Homo sapiens: one gene and its partners. The protein of the gene in region 4 purifies or fractionates together with the protein of the main gene of each other region. This does not show direct contact. Each region holds a gene or a part of one and is shown on either strand. Other genes may lie near its edges.

Region 1 (3,500 bases), on a different chromosome or scaffold from region 4:
AAAGAACATGCCTAAAGTTGTACATGTTAAAATTTCCAAAGAAGAAAAGAACTCACCCAGCTCTGCTCCTCACCCTCCTCCGGGGTTCTATAGGTACTCCTTGCCCTTCCACATACTCCTTCTAAAACACTGGCTGCAGAGGTAGAGACAGACGGAGAGGGCATGAGAAAACTTGCTTCTCTTCACCACTCAGTAAGGTGTGGCTGAGACTGAGTACCTGGGTTGCGGGGATGCTGCCCAGTAACCCTAACAGATGTTACTGCCACTCAGTCCTTCCTCTCACTGGTTATACAGAAGCCAAAGTACCGATAGGAGAAAACAAGAGTGCATAGCATCACATACAGAACTGAAGTCATCAGCTACCTCTTTCCTTTAATTCTCCACTTCAGGGTGGCCAATCCAGGCAGAAACCTGGGAGGCACCCCAAATCCAATCAGTCCTGTCAATATGGCTCCCTTAATCTCCTTACACCACAAGCTTTCCTCTATTCTCACTGACTAGATTATTTCAACAGCCTTTGAGTAGTGTCCCTATTATCAATTTTTCTCCACTCCCAGTTTTAGAATATTACAAAATATGCTTTAAACAGTCTGGTCATGGTACTCCTCTGTTTAAAATTCTGCAACAGTTCCCTCCCACATGGAAGACAGTTCCAAACCCCTCAGCGTAGATGCAAGGCCCATTATGATGTGGCCCTTGCTTGTCTGCCTAACCTCATCTTTCATGGCTCCCCTCTTCCAATCCTAGAGCTGTGGCCATGATGGCAGTTTTCCAAATGTGCCGTGCTCTCTCACTCTCAACTTTCACCTGTGTGATTCTCTAAGCCTGAAATGCCCTTCCAACTCCACTTTTTTCAAACGCTGCTTATCTTTGGAGGTAAAAAATAGGTTCCAGTTCGGCCAGTGAAGACTTCTCTGCATGCTCTCCTTCTATGCTCTCTGTCTGGACAAATACAACAACTATAAGCTGTCATGTCACTTAAAACACTATCTCTTAATGTATTTTTATTTACTTGACTTCTCCTTTGACTACATGCTCCTTGAGGGGCTGTGTCATATTCATGTTGTATCCCCAGTGGCTGACACACAAGGTGACTATAACTCTCAATTTGCCCAAGACAGTTCCACCTTACGCCTGTTGTTTCAGCTTGCCATCAACTCAGCTCCTTTCTTTCTCAGAAGTCCCAGTTTGAACAAAAAATTATATGGCTACCCTAAACAATGCAAGTTCTCTGACCCTTACTACCGCTTCCCATCCCATTTAGCTGGAGAACAGAAGCATCAGAGGAGTTACCCTTTGCACCAGTCAGGTTTCAACTAGAGAAGCAGAACCAGTAGGAGATATATATTAAGAGAGTTATGGCAAGAAACTGGTTTACATAGGGCAGGCTATGAAGGGAGGAACTCATGCTGGAACTCTTGGCTACTAGCTGAAACTGCTGTCTACAAGTGGAATTTCTTCTTTTTTGGAAGGAAAACCTCAGCTCTGCTTCTAAAGCCTTTCAACTGATTGAATCAGGCCCACCCAGATGATCTAGAATAATCTCCCTTACTTAATTGATTATGGATTTTAATCATAGCTTCAAAATACTTTCACAGCAACACCTACATTCATGTTTGACTAAATATCTGGGGGCTACAGCCAAACCAAGTTGAAACATTAAAAAGACAATCACAGCCAGGCACCATGGCTCACATCTGTAATTCCAACACTTTGGGAGACTGACAGGAGGATCACTTGAGCCCAGGAGTTCAAGATCAACCTGGGAAACACAGACAGACCCATCTCTAAAAAAAAAAAAAATATTTTTAATTAGCTGGGCGTGATGGCATACACCAGTAGTCCTAGCTACTCAGGAGGCTGAGGTGAGAGAATCACTTGAGTCTAGGAGTTCGAGGCTGCAGTAAGTTATGATTACACTACTGCACTCCAGCCTGGGCAACAGAGCAAGGCCCACATCCTTTCTTTTTTTTTTAAAAAAAAAAAAAAGACTATTGCACTAAGATGCATTCCTAGCATCAAAAATATTGTTGCTCTGACAATACTTTCCCACAACAAGCTTATTTTGATTATCAGGTTCCCAAGTAACAGAACTAGACTTCAAATTCTAGCTAACAAATGTAGAAGAAATGACAACTTAAAAAAGAATCACGACTTTGCAACGCCTAATGAAATTGTAGGTTTAGTCAATGACCACCAACAGATCACTAAAAGTAGGTGAAATGCACATATTATGAACCTCCTGATGTGAGGCAATATAACATACACAGCACCATCTGCAAAGCATTCCCAACTCCCAAAAAAGCTGAATCTGAACAATTAAGCCTACAGAGCTAACTTCCATTTTATAGGAAATCCAAAGGATAGAGGAACAAATTAACACCACAAGAAAGCAAACAAATATGGAGTGAGAAATACAGTACTCTACAGGATAACTGACCAGGTTTCCATAACAAGTCAACAGCATGAAGCAAAAAAAAAAAAGTGGGGGAAGAAAGACAGAGGAAGAAGAGATTTAAGAGATGTAACAACCAAATGAAATACACAGACCTTGTTTGGATCTTGATTCAAATAAACCAAGTGGAAAAAGATAGTTCTGTGAGAAAGAAATCTGAACATGGACAAAGTACTAGATGACACCAACAAATTATTGATAATTCTGTCATCTATGATAATAGCAATACAGTTATATAAGAAAATTTCCCTGTCTTTTGAGGATGCACACTGAAGTATAGAGGGGTAAAATTATGTAACATTTTGAATTTGCTTAAAAAAAAAGTAGCCTCCACAAATTATTACAACTTTGAGAGCAAAGATAAGAACCTATGTACATTATTTCTATAGTGAAATTAGATGGCTAACTCACAAACTAGCTTTTAGAATACAACTCCGTTCATATATAGGAGAATAACTAAAGAGAAGGTGTCGTCTAGAATATTTAAGCAGCTCCATTACATCTCATTTCAATTCCAAATATAACTGGAGTGAGGGAGAGGAAGGTTACTGGGTGCTCACTACATCTGTGATAGTTGCTGAACATATAGTCTCAAATGAAGTTTGTATTACTAACATTTCCAACAAAAGGCTCACATTCTAGAGTGTCTATTTATTTCAAGAGTATCACAAAAATCCTTTTGAGACAGAGTCTTGCTGTCTCGCCCAAGCTGGAGTGCAGTGGCTCAATCTCAGCTCAACGCAACCTCTGCCTCCCAAGTTCAAGCAATTCTCCTGCCTTTTACAGGTGCGTGCCACCATGCCCAGCTAATTTTTGTATTTTTTTAGGAGAGACGGGGTTTCACCATGTTGGCCAGGCTGTCTCGAAATCCTGACCTTGTGATCTGCCCACCTCAGCCTCCCAAAGTGCTGAGATTACAGGTGTGAGCCATCGAGCCCAGCAAATTCCCTTCTTTAAAAAAAAAATCCTAATTTCTTGTATTTTTACCTGGCCCTTAAAAATGCAGGCAAAATAAACAAATAAACAAACACCCAAGACTAATGTC
Region 2 (3,500 bases), on a different chromosome or scaffold from region 4:
GGCTTCTCTCTGATCACAGATTAAGTCCACTTCGCCCAGGAGCCCTTCCTCCTCCTCCTGTCCCCATGCCAGCTGCCTGGATTAGTCCCTGCACGGTACTGACACTGTCGTCCCTGCGGTCACTTGTCTAATCGGTCGCCCGTAAATCCCGAGAGGACAGAGCTGATTTTCTTTCTGTCTTCAGCCCTAGCGTCAGGCCTGGCCCAGAGCCCCCACTACAGGCTTTTTTGTTGTTTTTTTGAGACAGGGTCTTGCTCTGTCACCCAGGCTGCTGTAGTGCAGTAGTGTGATCATGGCTCACTGCAGCCTCCATCTCCCAGGCTCAAGCCATCTTTAATTTTTGGTAGAGATGAGGTCTTGCTATATTGCCCAGGCTGGTCTAGAACTCCTGAGCTCAAGCTTCCTGCCTGCCTTGGCCTCCAAAAGTGTGGGGATTACAGGCATGAGCCACCGTGCCCAGCCCACCCCCCCTCTAAACACACGGAGCCTCCTCCAGACGTGCGGAGCCTCCTCCAAACATACCGAGGCCTGGGGACATTTCTGTTGACCCAGAACTGAGGTAGTGGCCAGACTGCAATTTGAATTCAGGTCTTTCTGCTGCAAAGTATATGCTTTTTTTTAAAAAAAATTATTATTATTAGGGTTTTTTTTTGTTTGTTTTTTGTTTTTTTAGAATGAGTCTCGCTCTGTCACCCAGGTTGGAGTGCATGGTGCTGTCATGGCTCACTGCAGCCTCAACCTCCCAGGCTCAAGCGATCCTCCTGCCTCAGCCTTCTAAGTAGCTGAGAGCACAAGTGTGTGCCACCGTGCCTGGCTAATTTGTTTTTTTAAACTGCTCCATTGAGATATGATTTGCATAACATACAGTTCACCCATTTAAACCACACACTTCAGGCTGGGTGGCGGCTCACACCTGTCATCCCAGCACTTTGGGAGGCCGAGGTGGGCGGATGACTTGAGGTCAGGAGTTCGAGACCAGCCTGACCAACATCCAGAAACCCTGTCTCTACTAAAAATACAAAATTATCCGGGCGTGGTGGCGCATGCCTGTAATTTCAACTACTCGGGAGACTGAGGCAGGAGAATCACTTGAACCCGGGAGGCGGAGGTGGCGGTGAGCCGAGATCACACCATTGCACTCCAGCCTGGGCAACAGCAGCGAAACTCTGTCTCAAACAAACAAACAAAAAAAAACCCACACACTTCAGTGGTTTTTAATAAATTTGCAGCATTGCTCAGCTGTTACCATTCTTTCATTTTAGAGCATTTTCATAACCCCAGAGAGAAATTTTATACCCTTAAGTGGTCACGCTCCATCTCCCCTGTCCCCAGCCCTGGCACCCACGCGTCCCCTCCTGTCTCTGTGGATGGGCCTGTCCTGGATATTTCGTAGAAATGGCACCACATGGCCGGGTGCAGTGGCTCATGCCTGTAATCCCTGCACATTGGGAGGCCGAGGCAGATGGATCATGAGGTCAGGAGTTCAAGACCAGCCTGGCCAACATAGTGAAACCCCATCTCTACTAAAAATACAAAAATTACCTGGGCGTGGTGGTGGGTACCTGTAATCCCAGCTACTCGGGAGGCCGAGGCAGGAGAATCGCTTGAACCCAGGAGTTGAAGGTTGCAGTGAGCCGAGACTGCACCACTGCACTCCAGCTTGGGCAACAGAGTGACACTTCGTCTCAAAAAAAAACAAATGGCATCACACACTGTGTGACTTTTGTGTCTGGCTTCTTTCTCTGCATGTGACATCATCGGGCTGCATCCACACCGCAGCCTGTTCCAGAGCCTCATTCCTTTTCATGGCTGAGTCGTGTTCCACTGGGCAGAGGCCACATCTTGTCAGTCCATTCACTCGTGGATGGACCTTTTGTCAATTGTGAATCGCGCTGCTGTGAGTGCACGTGTGCAGATTCCTGTGTGGATGTGTGTTCATGTCTCCTGGCTGGATCCTGGCACTGGAGTCTTGGGGGTCATGGGATGACTCCATTTTAAAGCTTTTTTTTTTTTCTTTTTTTTTCTTTTTTGAGATGGAGCCTCACTCTGTCGCCCAGGCTGGAGTGCAGTGGTACCATTTCAACTCGCTGCAACCTCCACCTCCCGGGTTCAAGCTATTCCCCTACCTCAGCCTCCCAAGTAGTTGGAATTACAGGCACGCGCCACCACGCCTGGCTAATTTTTGTATTTTTAGTAGAGATGGGGTTTCACCTTGTTGGCCAGGCTGGTCTCGGACTCCTGACCTCAAGTGATCTGCCTGCCTCGGCCTCCCAAAGGGCTGGGATTACAGGCTTGGCCACCACACCTGGCCTAAAGCTTATGCTTTTCTAGCCACTGACACTTCCTCTACTCAACCTAAAGCACAGATGTGCTCAGGAAATTGTAAGTAGTTTATGCATTTAAATGTGACCATCGGCAGCTGCAGCTCTCTCTGGAATGGAATTCCGTCAGCCTCTGTTTCGTCGTACCCAGCTCTGTTGGGTCCTCCTTGGCTTGGAGGGCTTTGAGTTGAATCCTTATTTTTCTTCGGTCTGTAAGATCTCCAAGGACACAGGCAACAGCACCTCCTTTCTCCATCCCAGGGCCCAGCCTGGAGGGGACGGTGGCGTGTGCCTCTAGTCCCAGCTACTTGGGAGGCTGAGGCAGGAGAGAGTTCACGGGGGGATTCAGCAGACAGGCCTGGGAGAGGGGTCCGGGCAACACCTGCCAGTTGTACTGGGGCCTGTTCTCACACCTGTCTCCCTGGTCTCCCCTGTTTTAGTTCAGAGGAATATCCTTGACTTCCCCCAGCATGTTTCCCCCTCCAAGGACATCCGGACAGCCAGCACAGAGGCCGACAAGAAGCTCTCTGAGTTCGACGTGGAGATGAGCATGAGGGAGGACGTGTACCAGAGGATCGTGTGGCTCCAGGTGAGGGGGCCCTGCGGGGAGTGCAAATAGCCTCCCAAGTAACTAGGATTACAGGCGCCCGCCACCACACCCGGCTAATTTTTGTATTTTTAGTAGAGACGGGGTTTCAACGTGTTGGTCAGGCTAGTCTCGAACTCCTGACCTCAAGTGATCCGCCCACCTCGGCCTCCCACAGTGCTGGGATGACAGGTGTGAGCCACTGTGCCCGGCCCATTTTTTGTATTTTTAGTAGGCACAGGGTTTTGCCATGTTGGTCAGGCTGTTCTCAAACTCCTGACCTCAGGTGATCCGCCCGCCTTGGCCTCCCAAAGTGCTGGGATCACAGGCCTGAGCCACCACGCCCGGCCACACATGTGCACTTTCATTTCCTTTCCTGGCCATCCTAGTGTGACCCAAACACCCCATCCCCACATGGCGTGAGCTGGCAGGGCCTGGCGGCATGGCTGCGTGGGCTCCTGCTCCCCCGGATGCTCCTCGCAGTATGCAGTGGGGCCTTTGCTGTTGATGTCACATGATCAGGAGAGACCCAGAGACCCTCCTGCTGCTGTTCATCCTCTTAGGCGAGGACCCCTGGGAATGTGCTGATGTGT
Region 3 (3,270 bases), on a different chromosome or scaffold from region 4:
AAATGGAAAAGAGGGATGAGGAAGGGGCCTTACTGGCCCAACTAGAAACAGAAACTAAGAACCCATGACTGTATTCTCTCCCTTGGACACCCCTGTGTTTATTGCAACAGATAGGGGGGAAAGAGACCCAGAAGGTGAGTTGCTGAAGTATTTGTTAAAGATTTGAAGAACTAGCTGGGCACAGTGGGTCACGCCTGTAATCCCAGCACTTTGGGAGGCTGAGGCAGGCGGATCACGAGGTCAGGAGTTTGAGACAAGCCTGGCCAACATGGTGAAACCCTGTCTCTACTAAAAATAGAAAAACTAGCCAGGCGCAGTGGCGGGCGCTTGTAATCCCAGGTACTCCGGAGACTGAGGCAGGAGAATTGCTTGAACCTGGCAGGCGGAGGTTACAGTGAGCTGAGATCGCACCACTGCACTCCAGCCTGGGTAACAGGGCAAGACTCCCTAAGATTTGAAGAACTTGCAAGGGTAATTTTCAGTATGTCATGTTTTGTTCTAGTTGTAGCCATTAGAACCCCACCTCAAAATAGGATTGATTTATTTTTATTTATATTTCTTTTGAGATAGTCTTGCTCTGGTTGAGGCTGGAGTGCAGTGGCGCCATCTTGGCTCACTGCAGCTTCCCTAGCTCAAGCCATCCTCCCACCTCAGCCTCCTGAGTAGCTGGGGAATACAGGTGCATTCCACTGTGACTGCTGATTTTTCTTTAACTTTTTTGTAGAGGTGGGGTCTCGCTATGTTGCTTAGGTTTGTCTTGGACTCATGGGCTCAAGTGATCCTCCCACCTCAGCCTCCCAGAGTGCTGGGATTACAGGTGTGAGTCACTGGGCCCAGCCGAGAAATAAATTTGAACAGAGCATTCTGTAAATGGAACTTATTTGTGGCACCCTTGTTCTGTGGTATGCTAGTTTGAAAAATTCTAGCCTACAACAGTTGATATGCAGGCCCTGCTGCTCTCTGCCCGTTTTTTGAGACGGAGTCTCACTCTCACCCAGGTTGGAGTGCAGTGGCACGATCTTGGCTACTGCAACCTCTGTCTCCCAGGTTCAAGCGATTCTCCTGCCTCAGCCTCCCTAGTAGCTGAGATTACAGGTGAGTGCCACCATGCCCGGCTAATTTTTGTATCTTTGGTAAAGACGGGGTTTCGCCATGTTGGCCAGGCTGGTCTGGGACTCCTGACCTCAGGTGATCCACCGCGCCTGGCCTGTTCTGTGACTTTCGACAAAGCAAACAATTTTTGGTTTCTTGGAATTTCATTTCTCCCCATTTAAAAGAGAACGTCCCCCTCCATCGCTTTCATGCAAGACATGGACCTACCCTTAGCGTGGAAATTGAGCTTGGAAGTAAGGTAGTGTGTAAAGACTAGATTGATTAAAATTCTGGCCTTGATCACATCCTCTTACGATTCTTCTGGGTTGGGGGAGGGTATGCTGTTTTAATTCTACCAGAATGAGAAGAATTTTTGCTGCTGGAATCAACATAAAACTTGGATGCAGCGTGCGGCAGACTTTGGAAAGATCTTTCACTATAGCTTGCTTGGATAAAACTGGTTTTCCCATATTCCTATCCCTGCATTTCTTTCATCTGCCGTGAGATTGTCCTTGTTAGTCAAGTCACAGCATAGCTGATGGGGTAATAGTAGGAGAACTTAAGCAGGCTTCCTGGCGTAGAGCAGTTGGGCCTTTCTGACAAGCCCATTTTCAGTTTCTGTGGGTCAATCTCTGCTTTTGGAAGTGTTTTTCAAGTGTGCCTGTGATTTTAGAGCAGATTTTGTGAGCAGAGGGTCTTCAGTTAGTGGACATCAGTTAGTGGACTTTCTTCAGTAGTGTTTTAGGGCTGGCATGTAGTTGAGTGATGGCAGCCCTTGGCGAGCTTTTACTTGGGAGGATCATTGTTGCCATGTCCCAGTAGCCACGAGATGAGATAATTGCAGGCCCTTTGCTCTTTCTGCCTTCCATCATTCTGTCAGATTTGTTTGGAAAAATTTGTCTGGGGCTGTAGGACATTGTTTCTTGGAAATATGTAACGGTACTTCATTGGTGGGAGCAGCGTTCTTAGTTCAGTGCCTGGACAGCGTGTTCCTTAGATATTCTAATAATTTGTAGAGCTTCAGGATTTGAGACCCTATGATTTTATTTCAGCCTTATTATGTAAGAAAGGGTTGGCTGTAGTCTCTCTTGTCGAGACTTGATCTCTAGGCTATGTAAAATCTGATCATCCTGGACAGCTCTCCAGCCAACAGGGAGCACGCCAGTGGCCTGACACTGCCATGTATTGCCTTGTTCCATCTCTTTGCATGCCTTTGCTTTTTCTCCTAGGCAGGCGTAGTCTTACTTAGGTGTATTTTTTGAAAAGTATGTCAAGCATTGTGCACAGAATAAGTACCCATCTGAATGCTGGGTTGGTTGGTTTGGAGGACTGTTTATTTATGAATGTCATCTTGTGTTACTCAGTTTTTCTGTTATTGGTAAAGTGAAGAATGTTTTTGTTGTTGTTGTTATTTTATAGTGTGGGGTGATCAGCCCCAGATTTGACGTGCAACTCAAAGACCTGGAAAAATGGCAGAATAATCTGCTTCCATCCCGCCAGTTTGGGTAAGTTGGCCTTTCCTTAATTAAAAGAAGTTAATGCTAAGAATTTCTGTGGTGCAGTTTGACTTAAGGGTTTTTTTCTTTTTTTCTGTTTAAAACAAAGCAGTGGTAATTTGTCTACTCTTAACCATTTTGACCTAATAGCTCAAGTGTTATCCATATTTCTTTTCTCTCTCTTTAAAAAGAGACAGGGTTGGCCAGGCACAGTGGCTCACGCCTGTGATCCTAGCATTTTGGGAGGCTGAGGCAGGCGGATCACCTGAGGTTGGGAGTTCGAGACCACCCTGACCAACATGGAGAACCCCGTGTCTACCTAAAATACAAAATTAGCCAGGCCTGGTGGCACACACCTGTGATCCCAGCTACTTGAGAGGCTGAGGCAGGAAAATAGCTTGAACCCGGGAGAGAGGTTGCGGTGAGCTGAGATTGTGCCATTGCACTCCAGCCTGGGCAACGAGTGAAACTCTGTCTCGAGAAAAAAGAGAGAGAGACAGGGTTTCACTTTGTTGCCCAGGCTGGAGTGCAGTGGCTGTTCACAGGTGCGGTCATAACACGCTACAGCCTTGGCTTCTTGGCCTCGAGCAGTCCTCCCCGCTCAGCCTCTTGTGGATTTGGGAATACAGGCGCCTGCCACCGTGCCTGGCTATTTGCCACATTTCATGTGTTGAGCTTCAGG
Region 4 (3,500 bases):
ACCTAAATGAAGGGGACGTATGTAAAGCACCTGACTCAGTGCCTAGCACAGTAAGTACTCAATAAGCAGAAGTACTGAAATGTCCTGACACCATTTAGATGTCTTTCTCTGCTTAAGACAACAGACTCTATAACATCCTTTTAGTAAAAAAGTTTTATCATAGCAAAAAATATGTATTTATAAGGACTGTCAGGAGGGATAGGCTATTTCCAATATCACAGTTTTGTTTGTTGGTGCCTTGAAAAGATAAGATTTATTACTCAAGAGAATGAAATCCACTGATAGGTTCACAGAAACATGTTCCATCTACAGCGTAAACTGGAAGATTTTTCTGGAAGTGGCTGTTGGCCGACGCCAGGTGTTTGAATAAAGACAGCAGCATCTTGGTGTTATACTCAGGAACAGCTTACCCCCTTCCATAGGGTAAAAAGTGGCTTCTTAGGTCTGCAAGAATTCGGGTTGTACTCGGGCTACTTTCCGGAATTCTTTAGTGTGGGTCTTAGGGCACTGCATCTCACACCAGCTGATGGGAACCATCTGGATACCTGGAAGGGAAAAGCTGGTGGTGGAGCCCAGACCCCAAAGATTTGCCTGCGACTCCTCTTTTATGCTGGGTATGAAGCTGAAGTGCCACCAAGCTTCCTACTGAACCTCAACTCATAAAGAAAAAACTTTGTTCATTCTACTGACTTATGAAGTGAGTCCCGTTTCCTTGGATTTATATAAGGAGAATCAGGCTGGGCGTGGTGGCTCACACCTGTAATCCCAGCACTTTGGGAGGCCAAGGCGGGCAGATCATTTGAGGCCAGGAGTTTGAGACCAGCCTGGCCAACATGGCGAAACCCTGTCTCTACTAAAAATACAAAAATTAGCTAGGTGTGGTGGCGTGTGTCTGTAATCCCAGCTACTTGGGTGACAAGAATTGCTTGAACCAAGGAGGTGGAGGCTGTGGTGAGTGGAGATGGCACCACTGCACTCCAGCCTCCTCGACAAAGTGAGACCCTGTCTCAAACAACCACCACCACCAGCACCAAGCAAAAAAGAAAAAAATAATCATTCTAATCTCAGAGGGAAATATCTATAGCCATACTGCTTCCCAGATAAGGGAAACCAGGAAAAACAATGGATTTATCCCAAACCATAGATCCAGGGAAAGTAAGGATGTGGAAACAAGGCCATCTCACCTGACTCACTGTGGGCTACCACCACTCCCAGCTCGTTCTCGGCGGTGGTTAGCAGGTAGTTGGACTGTGCATCACCTAAGGAGATCTAGTCACATAACACCGGTGAAGGAAAATGAGGAGTTAGAAGTCTTCCCCCACCTTAGCCACCTGAGTTGTTTTTCTACCTTTTTTTTTTTCTGAGATGGAGTCTTGCTCCGTTAACCAGGCTGGAGTGCGGTGGCGTGATATCAGTTCACAACCTCTGCCTCACAGGTTCAAGCGGTTCTCCTGCCTCAGCTTCCCGAATAGCTGGGATTACAGGCATGTGCCACCACGCCCAGCTAATTTTTGTATTTTTAGTAGAGACAGGGTTTCACCATGTTGTCCAGGCTGGTCTCGAACTCCTGACCTCAGGTGATCCACCCGCCCTGGCCTCCGAAAGTGCTGGGATTACAGGCATGAGCCACCACACCCGGCCTCCTTCTCTTCTTTTGACAAAGGACCAGAAGTCTGCTGGGAATAAAGGATACCACTTTGGCCAAGACAATGTCACCTGGGCGGAAACTCTTATAAATTTCAACCTGTAAAGAAAGAACAGGAATGTTAAGTGAAAGCTCTAGACTGGGTCTATATGAAACTGTGAACGCTTCTGGTAAAGCCAATCTACTTTCTAATCCTGGAGGGTAGAAATCATCATTACTCATGTCAAGTCAAGAACTTTTAATTGCTTCTACAGTATTATCATACAAATGAAAATTTTTTTTTTTTGAGATGGAGTCTCGCTCTGTCGCCCACACTGGAGTGCAGTGGTGCGATCTCGGCTCACTGCAACCTCTGCCTCCCGGGTTCAAGCGATTCTCCTGCCTCAGCCTCCTGAGTAGCTGGGATTATAGGTGCATGGCACGACACAGGCTAGTTTTTATATTTTTAGTAGAGACGGGGTTTCACCATGTTGGTCAGGCTGGTCTTGAACTCCTGACCTTGTGATCCGCCCACCTTGGCCTCCCAAAGAGCTGGGATTACAGGTGTGATCCACTGCACCCGGCCCTTTTTTCTTTTTTTTTAAGAGGTGGGATCCCACTGTGTCACCCAGGCTGGAGTGCAGTGATGCAATGGTAGCTCACTGCAGCCTTGGACTGCTGGACCAAGGGATCCTCCTGCCTCAGCCTCCCAAGTAGCTAGGACTACAGGTGCGTGCCACCACTTAACCTCAAACTCCTGGGCTCAAGCAATCCTCCAGCCACATCCTCTCAAGCAGCTGGGACTACAGGCATGAGCTACCATGCCTGGCCAATTTTTGAATTTTTAAAATTTTTGTAGAGACAGGGTCTCGCTATGTTGCCAGGGCTGGTCTTGAAGTCCTGGACTCAAGTGATCCTCCCGCCTCAGCCTCCCAAAGTACTGGGATTACGGGTGTGTGTGACCATGCCTGGCCTGAGATAATACTTTTAAGGGATTGAGATACGTAAAGCCATTAAAAAAAAAGAACCAACCAACAACCTTGTCTTTTTCAGTTGCTCGGACATCTTCCTTGCTATAAAAAAAGAATTAACAGAAAGATTAATTACCTGTGAGAAAGAATTTTTTTTTTTTTTTTTTTTGAGACAGAGTCTCCCTCTGTCACCCAGGCTGGAGTACAGTGGCGCAATTTTGCTCACTGCAACCTCCGCCTCCTGGGTTCAAGCAATTCTCGTGCCTCAGCCTCTCAAGCAGCTGGAATTACAGGCACGTCCGCCATGCCCAGCTAGTTTTTTGTATTTTTAGTAGAGATGGGGTTTCACCATGTTGGCCAGGCTGGTCTTGAACTCCTGACCTCAGGTGATCCACCCGCCTCAGCTTCCCAAAGTGCTGGGATTACAGGCATGAGTCACCTTGCCCAGCCTGTGAGAAAGAATTATTCTGTAGATTCCTAGTAAATAAAGAGCTACAAGAACAGACAGAACAAGTTGTAAATGGGACACAGCTGCTACCCAGAGGAGCAGGGTGGAGAAGCATCCTCAGACCACATGGAGAGGCAGTATCAATACCTCTGATTAGATAAAGGCAGATCGGATTTGGCAAGAAAGGATAAGGAATTTCGTTGCCTCAGGGCTTGAACAGAAGCACTATAGCAAGGGCCCCCAACTTCTGGTGGCCTGTGAGGAACCGGGCTGCATAGAAGGAAGTGAGTGGCAGGCAAGCTTCATCTGTATTTACAGCTGCTTCCCAATCGCATACATTACTGCCTGAGCTCCGCCTCCTGTCAGATCGAAGTGGGCATTAGATTCTCATAGAAGTATGAACCCTATTGTGAACTGCACATATGAGGGAGCTAGGCTGCCCACTCCTTATGAGAAT
Region 5 (2,993 bases), on a different chromosome or scaffold from region 4:
GATGATATTTGTAAGGGAGGATAATTTATCAACTTTTTCTAATAGAATGCTCCTTGAATCAATATCTGCCATATGAAATTATATGACAAGTAAACCTCAAATTTATTACCTATCACCTTATAATGATAAATAAGCAATCTAAAGTATGCTGCATAGTACCTTGAGGAAAGTGACTGCTATACTTAAAATTAAGGCTGATTCCTAAAAGGTATGGAAGAAAAGCCAGAATGTTATTGTTTGTAAACCACTAAAGACTTAATATGAACAGTTTACATAACTATCTGGTTAATTTGGGCAAATGAGCACTTGTGTTTGGTTTCTAACTTTGCTGGAAGGTGTTGGTCTAATAAAGAAAACTGCTTTAAGTAGGAGCACTTTTAGCATACACAAAAATAAAAATCCTTTGTAAATTTCACTTGCAATGTTGTGCAACTGTATATCTTTGCCTTATGCATTTGAAACTGATTATGTATTTTATGCAAAATGGTATATTTTTCCCAAAGCTAAGAATATGGACAATGATGATATGATAGCTAAGCTAGTTTTATCTTTCTAGCTTTTATCAACTCTTGACTTGTTGAATTCCTACAATGTGCAAGGCAGTATGCAATGTGTTGAACATATATGAGGTCTACACATAAAACAAAGGGAAACTGAAGTCTTTGGAAGCAAAATAGTTGTCAATTTGAAAACCAACGGTAATCATTTTCCTCAACAGTATTTCTAAAAGTTGAGAATGATGTCAACTAAAACAAAATACAATCATCCCCACCTCTACCAAAGATGGAACTATAACACAGAAATCATTTCCACAGAAGACACGAGAATGTTCATACTAGAGCCATAGGGACCAAAGCAGCAAGATAAACAATGAGGCAGTCACAGAATATCTACTAGCTACTGTACTGGTAATAGTTTATAAAAAATACGATCTATACTAAAATTTAAGAGCTAATAATATATTTAGCATATTTTTGCCTTTTCTTTTTGCCACTGAATATAAAATTTGTCCTGAATTTACTAAATCTTCTACACCCTGAGGAATAACAACAGACTAATAAAAGTAACGTCAGGGTTAGCTTTCTGGACAATAGAATCATCCAGAAAGCACAAATTATATATAGCTAATATTCTTGGAAGCACAAGGTTTCATCAGCAGACTAAACTACTGCCCTGTATTGTTCTTAGCAAAGAGTTTGGTTTTACAGTGTTAACATGGCCTGGTGAGAGTAGAGAAGTCAAAGTTGGGAGCCTGAGGTTTCCTCTCCCACCTGAGATCCACAACTGATTCATTGGTTTTCTGTCTTCACCATGAACATGGCATATTGCTGCCCTTTAGGAATATATTATTCAACAGTTCTCTGTAAAAGCACTTTGGAATCTTTAGCTATATATTTCTATGAAATTATATTTGCTATCTTGAAATATGGAATTCCTATCCCTCCCTTCTCCATATACAAACAGATAAAATGATACATTTAAAATTTCATCTACGCATTTACTTCTTTTCCTCCAATACCTGAGAGAAAGCAAGTACTGTTTTCCCCCTTTCAACTATATTACATTATGCCTGAATTTGAGAGGGAAGGAAGGTCCTAAAGTAAGGCAAAGGATTCATTTAGGACAACGTTCTGGCCTTTATTTTAGGGCAGAGTGCCACTGTTTCCCTTTGGACGCAGGTTTCAGGCTAATCTATTTGTGCACACACCATCCTCTAAATGGGATGCCTCCAACCCCCAAAACGTTAGTTGCCAGAAAGAAAGAACTAAATCTTGGTAGGGTGCTTAAAATGATAACTAATGGAATAATCAAAGCATCCTGCCTGCTTATATCAGTCTCTCACTGAAGGATAAAATACCCTACGGGGCCATGCCTAGCGATGGGAATAAATAAAACAATGGGCCACAATCAACTGTTTGATAAAACTTCCATCCTGTTTTCTTAAACATTAAATATAATCTTGCTCCCAAAAAAGTAAGAAAGGCACTCGAATTAACACAGTCTCTACAGTTATTTTTTAAAAGACACTATGTGACAATAAGGAATTCTTAGGGTTGATTTTTCTTCATTAACTTCTCAGTGCCTCCACACATCTCTCCATTAAATGGGAGCTTATTACAGAGCATACCTAGGTATGGGGAGGCAGCAACACATAAAGTGCTAGGGTTTGCACAGTTCTATTTGAGAAATTTATTCAAGACAAAAGGTTCAGTTGTTATCAGGTTCAAATTTTCTAGCATACTTTAAATATCTGTAAGTTTTAAAATATAATTTTCCAGTAGCAAAATAATAGTTAGCTTAAAACAGCTTTTTAGAAAAAAAAAATCATGTTACTTCCCTTTACAACTAAATCTTTAGCATCTTCTATAACTCAGGGGAACTAAGGTAGGGATTATTAGATTGTTGTACAGTAGGTGGTATCTGCCATCTTGTGCTATGTAAGAGAAAATTATTAAACTGACAATTTGTTTGCTTCAATACTAAAAATTCCTTTTACACACACATACATGTGTGTGTGGCCCAACAAGAATAAACTGGCATGACCTGAACATACCTAAGTGGCATACGATCTACTATGTATTTGCTTTCCTGCAAACTACTGCATAAAAATCCAAAAACTTTTGTTTCCGTATCTTGTATCACATAAGCCCTTATTTAAAAATTTAAGTACTTTTAGAGATAACCTGTATATATTTAACCCTACTAATAATTAAGCCTTTAAGTGAGAACTGTACCATAGGAATAAGAAATATGACTGAAAGTCTGGGCCCAGAGTTTCTTAAGAGGTAATAAAATGCTAAAATCTACAGAAGACAAAGGGGACATTAATACATATCAAATCCCTAAGCTTAAAAAATGACTCATACAGATTTAAGAAATATCTGAAAGAGTCACAGTTCAAGTTGCGGGGAAAAAAGGAGAAGCATAAAATGATATGTGCACAGGTACAGATCAGTAAGTCACTGAAATCAAAGAATTTCTTCAGATGATTA
Region 6 (3,500 bases), on a different chromosome or scaffold from region 4:
ACTTATATGCAAACTTTTTTCAACCAAACACAAATAAAACATATGGTATTTGAGGGATGCAAAACCCTCAAATACAAGGACCGACTTTTCATATGCATAGGTCCCATGATCTGCAGGGCATTGCTTGGATTTTGGTATCCACAGGGGTCCTGGAACTAGATACCAAGGGAGGACTGCACTCGGTATTGTCGGTCTCTCCAAATCAGTCCTATAAATGTTGTGCAACCCATATCAAAACTTCAAGAGATGTGCTCACCAGCAGTTAACCAATTTTTATAGAACATGAGGAAGGCTTTACCCAAATCTGAGAACATACCAAAGTAATGCATCATTTACTAGGAATATGGAAGAGCTCAGTGAAAGAATTTAACACATAATGAAACAGCATTTCAAATCAGACATATGAGTGGACTTTTCAATAAATGAATTTTGAACAGATATTGGAAGCAGCGCTGTTTCACTCTTCAGAAAAATCAATTCTAAAGATCTACATGTTAACTACTCACACAGAAACATGTCGTAGAGGAAAATACATGACGTGAAATGAGCACATGTAAACATAGGAAAACATACACTGTAAATGTCTTAGAAAATAATTTGCTTTATATCCTGAAATAAGTCATGAAAATTAATCAATTTGATTGTATACAAATATAAAACATTTATTTAAACAGACACCATGTAAAATTAAAGCCAAATGGCTAAGTAGGAGAAAACATTGGCAACAGACATAAAATACAGAAAATACAAGAGAACTCCTAACAAATCCATGAGATAAAAGGACAAATCATTCAATAGAAAAATGAGAGGAAAAAGAAAATTAACAAATGTTTATATGTTCTAAAATAAACATACAAAAATATGTCCATCTTCACTAGTGAGAAATTTCTGATTTAAAACCAAAATAATTTTTTCAGAGTAATTAAATTACAAAAATCCAATAGCAAGTGTCATTAATTACATGGGGAAGCAGATGCTCATATCTTGCTCAGGGGAACTGTAACTTGATACAGCCATTCTGGAACCCAAATGGAAGTATCTCTTCAAATTAAAAATGGTTATACTCTGGCCTGAAATTCAAATCCTAAGCATATACCACAGAGAGAGCCTTATATGTACAAAAAGGGCTCATGTAGGATGATGTTCCTTTCAGCATTGTTTGTAATTATAAAGGAATAAAAAGAAGGAAAACTTCCTTAAGTGTCTATTATAGGCAAAGTACTGTTGGACAGTGCACAAGAGATTAGGTAAATGTGAATGTACCAAAATAAAAAACTCCCAAGTAGAAATAGCAAGTTGTACAATAATATACATACACGTATGTAAAAATCGTAACTATACATTTCCTGTGGCTGTAGATAATATATACACATTCCTACATTAAACACTCATAAAAACACTCTAAAAGAAGATCTAGGAGAGTTAAAACTATTACTTCTACAGAGGATATTGGGACTGAAGATGGTTTTCAAAAAGCACACAAGCAAAATGTAGTCATATATTACATGAGTAATTAAAAAACTGAAAGAGTGTGCACAGATTGATATATTTTAAGGAAAATATAGATAAAATTATATTTTCTATTTCTTTCCCTCCCTTGATGGAAACAGTACATGAAAGGTTCTAGAAGATTACCTGCCAAAATGATGTATTCTATCTAAATATATCTCTGGTAACAATACACTTAAGTCTTTATGCTCACTTTAAAAAGAGAAGAAAATTCGGTTCATGATTTCTGTAAGCAATACAATTTCAGTTCACAGCTCTTATCATTTTGTTTTAGTTATTTACAATCTTTACTAGGTATAGAATTATATATTGGGATTTTGCCATATTCCAATTTAGAATATAGTATTTAGGAAAGAGGAAAATAGTTTTTTAAATTAGAACTTAAGTCATGATTAACATTTCTGTCAGTGGCTTTAATAAGTCAATACACATTTCTAAAAGAAAAACGAAATTGAGTACAATAACCACATTGGCTTATTTCCTTAGTAGTTTATTAATTCTATCTTACATCATTAAATAAAAACATGAATATTAAAAGATATCACTGGTAAATGCCTTTTGAGGACTGCTTCTTTTGGAGATCATTCTACAAAACTCTCTTACCCTAACAACGAACGAGAATGCTACTGGTGTTCATATTCAAACCACTGTGTTTCATGAAAGACCCAACTTTTGAGGGTATAAACTAAGAATAGTTTTTAGAGCGCTATGCTTTAAAGAACTGCTTATTTTTAATTCATGTATTGCAAAAGTCTTGAACCATAAAAAAAACAAAACAATGATGATGAGAAAAAAAGAAAACTCCAGGGCTACCTGGGTTTGCAATGGTTGTGAAAGAAAAGTATACTCAGCATTTTCTTCCCAAATTAAAAGGTCCCCCCCAAAAAAGTGTAGCCAAAAAAAAAAAAAAAAAAACAAAACAAAACAAAATAAAAAAAACCCTGGCTTTGAAATACCCATTCTTGGCTGTGGTAGCAATAAACAATATTGCTAAAAATTGTTTGCAAGGATTTATGGAATTTTTACCTTTTCAGAGGACATTAAACTATTGTTATCTACATGTCTGCAGTGTCAGTAAAAGGCCATCTTCCAATGGAATTTGGAATTTCCCTTACCTATCCTTGGTATCAGTTTAACCATCTACAGCGACTTGCCTTGGGCAAGGAAGGGCCTCCCACATTTCTGATCCATGAACAACTTCCTTTCAGTACATTACAATGGAGAAAGCACTAGGCCACTGTTAGAAAGTTTTAATCTGTCACTGAAATACCAGCAGACTTTAGCCTGATTCCTCTCCTGCAACACAACAGGGCTGTGCTAGAAGATGATTAGTTTATCCTCCAACTCTGAGAGTCAATCATTCATATTTTTATCAAAGGCCACCGAGGAAAAAAGCATTCCTTTTTTCTTCATAACAGCATTTTTATAACTACATCATGTATCAGTTTTATCTGACATTTTCAATTTAATTCAGCAATACTTCACAGTGAACATGCAGCATCTCTTTATATGAAACAGATACTCAAAAAATATAAGCAGGTAATAATTTTTTAAAAATCATATAAAAGTTAATGTGAAGAGACTCAGAAAATAAATCATTTGAGCAGATTCTTTAAGTCTTCAAAACAAAAGGCAGGTGTAATTTATTTTTTTAACTTTTTGTAGAGATGGGATCTTGCTTGCTATGTTGCCCAGGCTGGGCTCAAATTCCTGGCTTCAAGCAATCCTCCCGCTTTGGCCTCTGAAAGTGCTGGAATTACAGGCATTATCCATCATGCCTGGCCGGGAGGTGCGATTTTATTTCAAGAAAGTATTTAGCATTTAAAGTGGAGATATACTGACTAGTCAGTAGTGCTAGCATTTATTTTCTTTTCACATTGACACTTGGAAAATAAGAAATGAGTTCAATTGAACCCATTTAATATGAAAGTCTTTGTTTAGTCACAAATTTATTTTTACAACAAAGCACTTTTGAGATAATTTAAAATACA
Region 7 (3,500 bases), on a different chromosome or scaffold from region 4:
AGAAAGTTTTTATGATAGTTTTAAGGGTAAGATGTATATATAAAGTAACTCTTTGCTGTAAATTCCAAGAGATTAAGATTAAAGCTTTGTTTTTAAATGACATCCACATTTTTGGATGTCTACTTTATTATTTTGTCTTGACTTTGTTTTTGTCATAAGTCATAGATTAACTAGCAAAACTTTTGGCTACTTATGTTAAACTCTGTTTTATTCTCCATATTGATTTAGTTTTATAATGTTGGCATTGTATGGTGGGGATAGCACAATTATCTTACCAAAAATTGTTTATAAAATCACAGTGATGTAAAATACGTGTATCATTTTTCTCCCTTAGCCAAACAAAATGATGAGACTGGACAGTTCTCCAGTATCAAGTCCAAGAAAGCATTCAGCAGAACTAATTGCTATGGAGAAAAGACGGTTACAAAAGCTAGAATATGAATATGCCCTGAAAATTCAAAAATTAAAAGAAGCCCGTGCCCTTAAAGCAAAGGAACAACAAAATATCTCTCCAGTTGTGGAAGAGGAACCCGAATTTTCTTTACCTCAACCCTCACTTCATGATCTGACACAAGATAAATTAACCCTGGACACTGAAGAAAATGATGTTGATGATGAAATTTTGTCTGGTTCAAGCAGAGAGCGAAGAAGATCTTTTTTAGAATCCAATTATTTTACTAAACCTAACCTTAAGCACACTGATACTGCTAACAAAGAATGCATAAACAAACTTAATAAAAATACTGTAGAAAAACCAGAACTTTTTCTAGGGTTAAAAATTGGTGAATTGCAAAAATTGTATTCAAAAGCTGACAGCCTAAAACAGCTGATTTTAAAAACCACCACAGGCATTACAGAGAAGGTTTTGCATGGTCAGGTAACTGAACATTTCATATTTTCTTTAAAATCTGGAATTCACCCAGCCTTATTTGCCTTACAGAATTATTATTTTCTTTTGCAGGAGATTTCTGTAGATGTGGATTTTGTCACAGCACAAAGTAAAACAATGGAAGTGAAGCCATGTCCTTTTAGACCCTACCATAGTCCTCTTCTAGTTTTTAAGTCCTACAGGTATAAAAGAAAGATTCAATAAGCTTGAATTTCAGGATTTCTGTTTGGTTTTTAATATTTTATCTTGAATATTTGATGATAATGAAAAAGCAATTGAATCATTGCTATTGATAACCAGACTTACCCTTTTAAGGAACATAAAAATTAAGTGTCCTGCCGTTGGGCTCAAACCACACTCTTGGATTTATCAGTTCGTATCAAATTCCAGTTTCTGGCTATTGGTAGAAGTGTGGAGAATTTTGGATTTCTGTTTGTTAGGAATTTTAGGAAAAATAATTGGAATCTTAGAGGTTTTTTTTAATTTTTGATTTTTAATTTTACTGTTATTCAGTCTAAGAAGTGCATTGGCCAGCCTTCATAAAATTTATTTAGACATTTTCATATGATTAACTTTGTGGGTCCCCCATTTAGACTTTTAAAAGTTGTGAGAATGTTAAAGGGTTGCATGTTTTTATCTTAAAATTGTAAAGCACCTTCCAGGTAATATAGACTTTTTCCAGATTTTCTTGTCTTGGCTGGTAATGTGTGTAAGAAATACCGGTATTATATAGTATTTTATTATGTGGTGAGAAACTACTTTTAGAATACAAGGTTTTTTTTCTGTTTAAACTATTTTATGTTCTTGGTATAAAAGCAACTTGTTTCTATCCCTTGATATTCTAGGTCTTTTCTCGAATTAATTTTGGCATTAATTTAATTAGATAAATAGCTCATAAATAGTAAGCATGGAAATTTTAACTTGAGAAAGAAAAACTAAAGTTTTCTTAGTTTTCTGAGGAATGTTTGTTGGGCATAATATACCTGTTCACTCTCTTCACCTTAGATTTAGTCCATATTATCGAACCAAGGAAAAACTTCCCCTGAGCTCAGTATCATACAGTAATATGATTGAACCGGATCAGTGTTTCTGCCGTTTTGATTTAACAGGAACATGTAATGATGATGATTGTCAATGGTGAGTAGTTTTTGTGAACATTTTGTAATTTGAAAAATGGTCTTGTTTGCTTAACTTTGATATGTACATGATTATCTTTTCTGTGTTTTTTTTTATCTTAGGCAGCATATACAAGACTATACACTTAGCCGAAAACAGTTATTCCAGGACATTCTGTCATATAATCTGTCTTTGATTGGTTGTGCAGAGACAAGTACTAATGAAGAAATTACTGCTTCAGCAGGTTTTTAAAGACTTCCTATTCTCTCCCAAATGAAAATTGAATTTAGGCAACTTAAAAATTCTATATTAGTTGTTGACATTGTAAAATACTTACTATAATTCAGTGTATTTACCCATAATACTTTATCTAGATTTGCTGTATCCAGTATAATTACGGTAAAAATTTACTTCCTCTGTTACACTAGCCACATTTCAAGTACCCAATGGCCACATGTGGCAAGTGCATGCCAGTAGGACAGCACAGATTTAAGACATTTCCAACATTTCAGAAAGTTCTTTGGACAGAGCTCATTTAAATATTTAGTTCCATTTATTTAAAAGAAAATATTAAGCTATTTGTATAGAAACTTTACTATTGATTTTAACATAGGAGCCTATTTTTACTTATTGTTTTCAAAAAATAGAGGAAGGCTGGAAATTACGATGGCTGTTGTTTCCAATTCTATAATGAAATAAGACTTGATACACTTGTGAGCAAATATTATTAAGCTTTTTCTCAGATTTGGTGCCAAGTAATAAACCTCAAGCTACAAATCTTTTGGAAGTAAAGAAAATAATAATTACTAAATTTGGTGTTATCACAGCCCAGAGTGATTGTAATGTCACTGAATCTATTTTATCGCTCCCAATTTGGGACTTTAACTTAATTACTTAGTTCATTTTAGGAACTACTTTTTTTTTTTTTTAATCCCAAATGGGGTATATGATGTGGTAGGATTTGCCATAGTAGTTAAGATAATACAGGCTTTGCCCTTTCAAATGCCATAGGTGTTATTGACTAGTACCATATAATCGCCTTTAATTCTTAAACTAGTTCACGTCATACATTTTAATTATCCTAGTCTCTGTAATTGATATTTATCATGAAGATTGCATTGCTCTTATTTCAGAAAAATATGTTGAGAAACTTTTTGGAGTAAACAAAGATCGAATGTCAATGGACCAGATGGCTGTTCTCCTTGTTAGCAATATCAATGAAAGTAAAGGTCATAGTAAGTACATATATAAGTGTGTGTGTGTGTGTGTGTGTGTGTGTGTGTGTGTACTGTATCTCTTTCTGAAAAGGACTTTTTAGTTTCTGTATGACAGAAATTTTGTTGGTATTATGTTCTTAATGTAATACATATCATTCCAGGCTGGGTGCGCTGGCTCACGCCTGTAATCCCAGCACTTTGGGAGGCTGAGGTGGGCTGATCACTTGAGGTTAGGAGTTCGAGACCAGCCTGGCCAACATGGTGAAACCCCGTCTCTA

What was found.
Region 1: the proteins of EXOSC1 (region 4) and C1D purify together in Homo sapiens (affinity purification with mass spectrometry; 3 studies listed by BioGRID and IntAct, with this or other methods). This does not show direct contact.
Region 2: the proteins of EXOSC1 (region 4) and THOP1 purify together in Homo sapiens (affinity purification with mass spectrometry, with the first as the bait; one large-scale study listed by BioGRID). This does not show direct contact.
Region 3: the proteins of EXOSC1 (region 4) and RPS15A purify together in Homo sapiens (affinity purification with mass spectrometry; one large-scale study listed by BioGRID and IntAct). This does not show direct contact.
Region 5: the proteins of EXOSC1 (region 4) and PTAR1 purify together in Homo sapiens (affinity purification with mass spectrometry; 2 studies listed by BioGRID and IntAct, with this or other methods). This does not show direct contact.
Region 6: the proteins of EXOSC1 (region 4) and WDR36 purify together in Homo sapiens (affinity purification with mass spectrometry; one large-scale study listed by BioGRID and IntAct). This does not show direct contact.
Region 7: the proteins of EXOSC1 (region 4) and ZFC3H1 purify together in Homo sapiens (affinity purification with mass spectrometry; one large-scale study listed by BioGRID and IntAct). This does not show direct contact.

What each region holds. Positions count from the first base shown.
Region 1 is NC_000002.12:68,053,005-68,056,504, forward strand, and holds part of C1D (nuclear nucleic acid-binding protein C1D), read right to left. Parts: intron 134-3,500; exon of another isoform or gene 57-133; intron 1-56. UniProt on the Homo sapiens protein: Plays a role in the recruitment of the RNA exosome complex to pre-rRNA to mediate the 3'-5' end processing of the 5.8S rRNA; this function may include MPHOSPH6.
Region 2 is NC_000019.10:2,792,003-2,795,502, forward strand, and holds part of THOP1 (thimet oligopeptidase), read left to right. Parts: intron 1-2,761; coding exon 2,762-2,910; intron 2,911-3,500. UniProt on the Homo sapiens protein: Involved in the metabolism of neuropeptides under 20 amino acid residues long. Involved in cytoplasmic peptide degradation. Able to degrade the amyloid-beta precursor protein and generate amyloidogenic fragments.
Region 3 is NC_000016.10:18,784,065-18,787,334, reverse strand, and holds part of RPS15A (small ribosomal subunit protein uS8), read left to right. Parts: intron 1-2,511; coding exon 2,512-2,597; intron 2,598-3,270.
Region 4 is NC_000010.11:97,436,007-97,439,506, forward strand, and holds part of EXOSC1 (exosome complex component CSL4), read right to left. Parts: intron 2,698-3,500; coding exon 2,664-2,697; coding exon of another isoform or gene 2,657-2,663; intron 1,745-2,656; coding exon 1,694-1,744; intron 1,270-1,693; coding exon 1,185-1,269; intron 546-1,184; coding exon 439-545; 3' UTR 1-438. UniProt on the Homo sapiens protein: Non-catalytic component of the RNA exosome complex which has 3'->5' exoribonuclease activity and participates in a multitude of cellular RNA processing and degradation events.
Region 5 is NC_000009.12:69,712,019-69,715,011, forward strand, and holds part of PTAR1 (protein prenyltransferase alpha subunit repeat-containing protein 1), read right to left. Parts: 3' UTR 1-2,993.
Region 6 is NC_000005.10:111,126,848-111,130,347, reverse strand, and holds part of WDR36 (WD repeat-containing protein 36), read right to left. Parts: coding exon 3,465-3,500; 3' UTR 1-3,464. UniProt on the Homo sapiens protein: Part of the small subunit (SSU) processome, first precursor of the small eukaryotic ribosomal subunit.
Region 7 is NC_000012.12:71,629,349-71,632,848, reverse strand, and holds part of ZFC3H1 (zinc finger C3H1 domain-containing protein), read left to right. Parts: intron 1-334; coding exon 335-877; intron 878-961; coding exon 962-1,071; intron 1,072-1,894; coding exon 1,895-2,026; intron 2,027-2,127; coding exon 2,128-2,249; intron 2,250-3,138; coding exon 3,139-3,240; intron 3,241-3,500. UniProt on the Homo sapiens protein: Subunit of the trimeric poly(A) tail exosome targeting (PAXT) complex, a complex that directs a subset of long and polyadenylated poly(A) RNAs for exosomal degradation. The RNA exosome is fundamental for the degradation of RNA in eukaryotic nuclei.